Regions from separate parts of the Homo sapiens genome. Here region 2 is linked to region 1. The links come from fine-mapping of genetic effects on gene expression. A gene starts in region 1. The other region holds a variant in brackets. All regions are shown on one strand. Distances are from middle to middle.

The links. PIP is the estimated chance that this variant, and not a neighbour inherited with it, causes the effect. A credible set is the group of variants that fine-mapping cannot tell apart.
Region 2: its variant is the best candidate, but not a certain one, in a credible set for the expression of KLHL31 in testis (GTEx, PIP 0.53).

Annotation. Positions count from the first base shown.
Region 1 is chr6:53,663,807-53,668,206 of GRCh38, reverse strand. It overlaps KLHL31 (kelch like family member 31), which reads left to right and starts at 2,451. Exons shown (of 3, transcript NM_001003760.5): 1 at 2,451-2,606.
Region 2 is chr6:53,692,066-53,696,465 of GRCh38, reverse strand. No RefSeq gene overlaps it. Among named protein-coding and RNA genes, the nearest start is that of KLHL31, 29 kb to the right of the region's middle. The variant T/C (reference allele first, on the strand shown) is at 2,221.

The DNA.
Region 1 (4,400 bases):
TGATTGTCAGGATTCCTGTCTTTTGGGATATTGAACTGAAGGCTTTAGTTTCTAACTGGATGTTCCTTGCTTGGGCATCTCCAACCTGGCACTAGGCTTCATCAAAGCCAAGAGAGAAAGTCTGCTGTTAGGACAGATAAAAATCCCTGCCTTCATGGAGCTTACATTTGAACTGGCTGTATGGCAGAGAGTATCAGGAGGTTGGTGGAAGAGAGACAGGCACTAGCAATAGAAACAAATCTAAATTCCATTAAGGTTACATCCCCAAATTACGGAATGTTCATTCTAAAATGCCAATCTCATCATGACCCTCTTTTTTATTAAATATGCTCCAATTGGTAGACTCATTGCTTTAAAGACAAAGACAAAATTTCTTAATATTCACTACAACCTACTGTCCCATGCTGTGTTTCCAGTGTATCTACCATAGCAGTAGTCGAATGGTTACACAGACTAGCTACTCTGAAAATGATTTTTAAAGTGTCTTAGATTTTCCATTTTTTGCCTTTTATTCTTCCACTTGTGTTCATATCTTAACATTATATTATATTGAAAGGAGCATCTCAGTGATGTTCCAGTAAAACTGGAATTAATAGTCTTGAACCCTTGAAGAAGATAATATTGGTACCAACATCTTCTTGAAGGCCCTTTCCATCATTATATCATCATTATCATAAATACTGATATAAGGCTGACTTTTATTACAATTAAAACGGGATTGAAGGCCAAGGCAGAAAGATCACTTGAGACCAGGAATTTGAGACCAGCTTGGACAACATACTGAGATCCTGTCTCTACAAAAAACAAACAAACAAACAAACAAAGATGGAAGGTTCTGACCCTTTACCTGAGTCAAGGAGGTGGGACCAAGTAGAATTTCTTAGAAGCAAACCATAATAGAAGCTTCTTTGATTTGCTCCTGGCGCTTTCTGTGCTGGAGATCTATGGGTAGAAGCAAAGAATTAAAAAAAAAATCCAAATAGTTTTTCCTACTAAAAAATTGGTGGGAATTCCAGCAGAAGTAGTCAATAGACAGATGCTATCCAGTGAATTGAGAGTCTCAGGTGAACTGGAGACTGGCACATATAGAATCAGAGCCTTAGAGTTGGAAAGATTTCAGAGATGATGCAGTGCAAGCCCCCAGCCATAGACAGAGTCCCTTCAATGTCACACCAGTCCTGCAACTTCTTTTACTTCCACCCTTCTAATTATAGAGAACTGGCTCTTTTACAAGGCTGCCATTTTCATCATTAGAGCCCAGCTGTTATCTGCACTCTTCTTCTTTATTTTAAGGTATTTCCCCGGAATTACTGCACATTAAAATTTTTGACATTTTAGGCTACAGAAATTTTGACTGAATCCTCTTGCTGTACAACAGCCCCCACAACACTTGCTCTCAGGTGTCTCACTTATCTTAAAAGTCCTCTCTTTGTCATACTTCTCTTCAGATGTTTCCAACATGCACCGCCTCTGAAGTTTTTTTGTTCCAGCCATCTCTGTAGGATGAAGAGTAAGTTCTCAGAGTGCCAAGATAGCAAAGTGATGCTTAACACATCATCTGACTAATGAAGAATAATTAGAACATTTATTTTCCATGATCTATTTTTCTATTATTGTAGCTTAATATCATGTTAACTTTTTAAGCAACCATTTCACACTCTTGGTGCCCATTAAAATTTGTAGTCAATTATAATCATTGAATTTTTTTTCTCATGAAGTGTTGCCAAAGTAGATATTTCCCAACCTGCATGTGTGCTAGAGTGTGTGTTAATCTCAGACCTCTCTGTGATCACTGGAAAATCGCTGGCCATAAACCTCACTTTATTAAACTCTAAAATGAGCCTAATAATGTTAGAACCACATGTGAGGTGCTGTAGAAAGTACCATATCTGGTAGATACGTGCTCCTCTTATAAAGAATAGGCTATTTATAACCACTATCTTCTCAAAAGACCGTAGGTGACCAGGCTAATTACCTTTCCAAAAACTAATTTTTAATCCACAGCCTTCCCTTCTCCTTACTCTACTAGAATCCCTGCTTCCAACAATTAAACATCCATCGAATTAATTTTCTTTCCTCTCACACAGGTTGATTGAGCTCTTGACTTTCTTTCTTTCTTTCTTTCTTTCTCTTTCTTTCTTTCCTTCCTTCCTTCCTTCCTTCCTTCCTTCCTTCCTTCCTTCCTTCTTTCTTTCTTTCTTTCTTTCTTTCTTTCTTTCTTTCTTTCCTTCTTTCTTTCTTTTCTTTTCTTTTCTTTTCTTTTTCATTTTGAGCAGCTGGTCAGTTCAAGAAACCCAACCCCTCTCCACCAACCGGAGCCCCGCCCCCTGCCCCCGGCTGGCTGGAGAGTTGAAGGCCAAAGACGGAGAGGAGGGCGCTCGCTGCTCTGCTCCCGGGCCAAAGCGCAGGCTCGGCCTGCCTTATCCAGTGGGACGGCAAAGGGTCACTCTAAAAATTGCTGCAGCCGGGTCTTGTCAGGTGGCTGCTGGTGGCTCCCCACCGGATTTTCCTTCTCCCTCTCTCTATCTCCACAGATCCCTTCCCAAGAGGAGTCTCCTGCTAAAACTTCATCATCTCAAGTTGACCTGCCACTTCACCCAAGGAGGGTAAGGAGCTGGGACCAGAGTCGCCAATTCCTGCCTTCTAGATCCTGGGGTGTGTGTGGATGTGTGGGTGGGAGAGGGTGGGCTGAGTGTTTGTGGTTGTAGAGCTATTTTACTGAAGGGAGTCTACAGCTGGGTCAGGTGGTTCATGTCCCTAATCTGAAGTTGGGAGACAGAAAACATTTTTTTGAAATCTGAGAAATGTAACGTGTTAGGAGAACTTCACGGTAACAAAATGCATGACAATGATGCCCTACAAATGTAAAACCACCTGTAATTTCTAACAAAAATTCTAAATCTCTAAAGCTTAAGATATATTTTTCTTTCACTACTTTATAGAGAAGGAGAAGGAGAGAAAATTCTTAGGCTTTGTTCACAAAGTTTAGAATTCTACCTTTATTTTTATCAAGAATCATTTTAACATTTGTTACTGATCAGTTTGGATGAAATGTTACCAGTTTTAACTAAATCTGTAGCACAAAACTCAGACAACTCTGAATTCCCAGAAATATAACCTATTGATGAAATGGAAATATCCTTCCTAAAAAAAAAAAAAAATTTGTTATTTGGCTAAAAAATAGGTTTTTGTCTTAAATGTGCACATATCATTATGCTGACATATATTTTATATTAAAAATCATGTTGGAAGTGTAATGGTGAAGTGGAAACCACCCCCCTACACCCCACCCCGAGGTTGGACTTAAAATGGCAAGCCACAGAAGCCAGGAGGGTTTCTATTCCTGGAGGTAGGGCTGATGAGCCCCGACAGATGCAGCGATAGGAATGTGGCCAGGACAGGGAGCAGGCGCAGCTGATTCGCCCCTTTGGCAAAAAGACATTCTGGGATCCCAGTTCATACTGGCATGAGAGTGACAGTGACACTTTAGCACACATGGCTTTCCAGTTTACCCTGTTGTGGACTCCCAGGAAGCATGGGTGCAGGGCAGTGGGAAGGAAAATGTTCTCAAATATGAAGTAACAACTCTTTTCTATAACCAGTTCTGGGGGTCTTCATCTGGGATCAGCTGGGGCCAGGAAGAATTTAAGTGCAATACTTTCACATGGACTTGCCCACTTACAGACAAGGGTCCAATTATGTACCATTGCTTGGCAGCATTATTCTCAGTCCAGTCATTTTGGATCTATTTCGGGTTATGGATCTCATGAAAACGCTGAGCCCAGTGTGTGGAAAGTACACATAAACATATGCACACAGTATGTTTCAGACTATTCCGCAGGACTCATGGACTCACCTGATACCCAGCCCTGATCAGGAATGCCAGATACAAGTCAGGTCATCCAGCTACATTTGAATTTCAGGTAAGCTACAAATCAACTTTTAGCATAAGTATGTCCTCAACACTGCCTGGGACATACTTATACTAAAGTATGATTCATAGTTTATCTGAAATGCAAATGCAACTTGACATCTTGTATTTTTATTTGCTAAATCTAGCTGTTCAGACCCAGACATATAGATCCCATGTAAAGAAACCTTGTCTCAGTTCGTTCATCCCTATCTGATAATGAGTAGATTCTAAAGATATGGAAGGCCATATTACAGGGAGATTTAATGTAGGAACAGATTTTGACAATTCTGACAGCAAAAGTCAGCTGTGTATTCATAACTGTCTGCAAAATTATAGAAGCAAAAGTAATGCATCTCCTTGTTTGACAGTTGATTATACTGAAATCCTGATAGGTTGGACGTTCTGCTATAGGTCTATCAAGTGGTTAGAGCAGAATGAACACCGAAACCCAATTTTCAGTTCTATGATAATCAAAAAGGCATCAGTC
Region 2 (4,400 bases), 28 kb before region 1:
TATTATGTATTTAGTGGGAGGCACGAGGTCTGTGAAGAGAGAGGATCCTATGACAACCAGTAGTTTTCTGTCTTGGGTGACAGACGGATGCTGGTGCCATTACCCAGACAGGGAATGCAGGGAGGAAGAAGAGAGTTTCTGTGTTTGGCTCCTTCGGTTCAGTTTCTCTACTTGTCTGTTGTCTGAGTACACTTCCATATTCAATGGACAGTTGACTTTCAAAGAAAAGCAAAAGATTTCTGAATAATATGCAAGAGTTGAGCATGTAAAAAATTCCATGGAAATCTCTTGACCCAGACTGATAACTGAGTAATAGAAAAATTAAATTAAGCTATTCTTTAACTTACCACTAAAATTAAATTTTAGAGAATTTCCCAATGCTTTTATAAGGAAAGGAAAACATCTTGCCTTGTGTACCTCTCCTATTCCCTCAACATACTCAATAGAGACTTATTCAGGTTCAATGTCTGGGTCATAGTAATAAATTGGCTGAAAATAAAATTTCTGCTAAAATATTAAGCATGGAGATATTAATTCACAATGACTTAAGGCAAAAGTTTTCTGAAGCTTTCTGTGTTTTAAAAGTAAGCATATAAAACATGAAAGTAAACATATCATTCATTCATTCATTTATTCACTTAACAAATATTTGTACTGAGAACGTACTGTGTGCTAAGCTGGAGGTACAGAGCAAAACACATAGAGCACAGGCTGTTCTGGTACAAGAGCATTCTCGTGGTGGGAGATCTCAAAAAAAAAAAAACTGAATATATAAAAGTGGTTATTTACACCTATATTTTCCTGAAATACAGCTCTGGATTCCAGAATGGCTCTGGAATCAGCCATTTCTCCAAGGAACCGTGATTCCTTTTAGTAGAATTTAGAGCCTTCTTGCTAAAAGAGTGCCACTGCTACGGGGCTCTCAGTAAACACAGAGCTCTATCTCGTTATCTGCACATGCACACAAAATAAGTTTACACCAATAATGCCAACTCTATTCAAACACCACAGGGTTCATTCTGTTTTTCTCCCTTTCCATATTTATATCCCCCTTCACTGACAATGAGAAACCTGGCACCCATTATTCCTGATCTGCTTACTTACCTAATCAATCCTTCCCTATCACCAAGTTCTTATTGCTGCTGCCACTTTCTCTTACCACATATGCTCCCTTCACGCCACCCCCACGCTGCCACATCCACGCTAGACCCCGCTGGTGAGTGGGAGCCCTCCTCACTCTACCTGTGCCCTGATGGCCTGCACTGAGCCAGCCACTGCATGGGCACCCTCCTCACCCTGCTTTGGCCTCAACACCCTGAGTCAGGCTGCTCTCCCATGGGTACCTCTTCCTTCCTCTTGAGCTCTAATGTGAACCCCATAACAGGCCACTCTTCCAAGTGCACAGCCTCTTCACTGGTCTTTGAGCCTGCAATCTTATCTACCTTGTCAAATAGGTGATACAAGTAAAGAACAAAGACCAGAAAGCTAGCGTATGCATTATTTAAGGGAGTAGGGCAGGAGAGGAAACTTTGGATGTCAAACAGCTCCTCCTGCCACAAAGCAACCTTTTACTCTTTAACTTTTCTCCTTTGTACTGCCCCGGTTTATTAAAGACATTCATCTTCTATTAATCGAATTGAAATTTAACTAACAGCAGTGATCATTGGTAACCAGGGCAATAAGTTAAAGGACATTCTATTGTACTCTAAACATTTTTCCATCAAAAATAAGCCAGGTCTAAGGATCCTGTGTTGCTATTTTTCAGAAAATTCCTCTGGGGTCAGGTTGACCTACAAAGAAAGCTAGTTCTACTTCAGTGGGCCCCTTGTAAAGGTCTTTTGTTTGGCTGCTTTTGTTTTATTTTTATCTGGAAGACTCCGCAGAGCTTGTTACATAAGGAGAATAAGTTAAAACTTACTGAAAGTAGACTGATTGACGGAACCCTGAGACATAAATAATGTACTCACCTTCCAAAGATCCTTTGTAAGGCAGGGTTTTCTATTTAATGACATTCTACCCTTTTGATTCCTCTATTTAATGACATTCTACTCTTTTGATTCCTCTCACTATAGCCGTCCTTGACATGAATGCCTGAGAACCCTTGCCCCTGACTTTTTCCCTTGACCTTGCTCTCCAACCTAATCCTGGAATTCCTTCCTAATATAATTATAAATTCTGGGATTCCACCTGAGACCAACGATGACTTCTTCCTAGTGTAAT[T/C]GACAGTCTTCAGGGCCCGGACATCATCTGTCACAGCCTGGAGCGCATATGGAGAAAAAGAATGGGGTATGTGTGCACAGGTGTGTTTGTGGAGAGCCCACATTGCTTTTCTCTCTCTGTCTCTCTTTTTTTTTTTTTTTGAGATAGACTCTTGCTCTGTCACCAATGCTGAAGTGCAGTGGCATGATCTCAGCTCACTGCAACCTCTATCTAATGGGTTCAAGTGATTCTCATGCCTCAGCCTTTCAAGTAGCTGGGATTACAAGTGGTCGCCACCTCACCCAGCTAATTTTTGTATTTTTAGTAGAAACAGCATTTCATTATGTTGGCCAGGCTGGTTCAAATTCCTGACCTCAAGTGATCCTCCCACCTCAGCCTCCCAAAGTGCTGGGATTACACGTGCCCAGCCTGCCAGCCTTCTCTTCTTATCTTTGCTTGAGTCACTTTAAGTCCCTTATTTGCCATATCCTGGGCAAGACTTTGAGAGAAAGAAAAGACGACTTAGAAGCCTCTCCTGCTCAGCACTGGACCACAATTTAAATTCATCATAGATGTGGTATATGTTACCCAAGCATCAACCCCAAATTTGAGGATTTAAGTCAGGATTCTCTCACGGGCTCTATGGGCTGAATCCAACCCCTTAAAAATGTTAGCATGTGTCCAGCAAAGCATTTAGGAAGTGAATGTGAATGTTGCAGATAGGGTGTGCCCTCCCGAGGCTGGTCCAGTGCCTTCCATTTCTGTTGTCCCGCAGCAACCACCACACCCTCTCTACATACATTGTCTGTTGTGGGGTACATGACATAGAACCACACACATAGTTTCCTTTATTTATTACACGATCTTTTCACCCATCCCTGTTGTTTTAAGAGGTCTTATAGATGCTTTTTCCTCTGCCTCTCCTTCCACCTTTTATCATACATTCCTTTTTACTGTTTACTTAGCCACAAAATCCGACTGTCTTAGAGCTGGCTCTGCCCACAGTTTTTGTAAAGAGGGAGCCAGATTCAATCATGACACCTGGCTTTATTCTGGACTCTTCCCTGGTGGGTTGAGTGACATCGAGCAAGTCACGTGGAACTCCAGCATCTGCTTCCCCATCCCAAAGTAAAGGGATGGGAACAGGTGATCTCGATTTCCTACCAAGTGCCACATGGGGCCCTCTCGGACTTTTTTTGGTTGCAATCCAAATAAAAGAAAACAATAGAGAAAAGGTAACATCTACTTTATTCACTCAACAACTATTAATTGAGAAAAAAGTAAGTGCTGGGGATACAGAGATGAATAAGACAGATAAGGTCACTGTATTAGAGGGACACAGTACACGAAGAATGGCAGATTGTGGTAGGTGCTCTGTGGAGAGTAAAGCATGCTAGTCCAATGAAGAGTGATTGAGCATGGACTAAGGAGGCCAGGGAGGGCATCTCAAAAGAGATGATATTTGAGCCATGACCTGGGTGAGAAGTAGCAGCAAGCCATACAAGGAATATTCAAGGCACAGGGAACACCAAATGCAAAGGCCACAGGTCATGTTTGAGGAAAAAAACCAGGCCAGTATGTCTGCAATGCATTAGACAAGACAGGAGAAGGCACAAAAGGAGGTGAGCAAAGGAGGCAGAGATCGGATCATGAAGGGCTATGCGGACCCTGACAATAGGACCACTGGAGGAAGGTAACAGAGAAATGACATGGAACTTTCTATGTGTCTGCTAAGTGCGTGTGAATGGCAGCAGGGAGTCTGGGGCAGTGGAGTTGGAGAAAATAGGCAAATTTGTTATATTTTGGAGGTAGACCTGGCAGGACTTGCTGAAAGATTGTTGGGTTGGGGGAAGAAAGTGAGTCATTCAGAATCACTGTTGGGTATTAGGATTGAGGAACTGAATGAATGCTGTTTTCACATGGGCTGGTATTAGCAGAACCTCAAGTCACAGGCATTAAATCCAATAGCTCTTCCAATCTTCTCATTGTATCTCCCTGCTTATCTCATAAATATCAAAGCTTTATTCTCCCATCGAGCACATGTTTATTGATTGCCTATATGTTTCAGGCACTATTTTAAAGTAACATAGCTATTTGGTTAATTTTAGTGTGGTTGTTTAAAACAGCTTAAATTGGAACCTACTTAATCAGTAATCTAAGCTACTGGTGAAATGAATTCTTTTTTTAGTATTGGCAGGCAT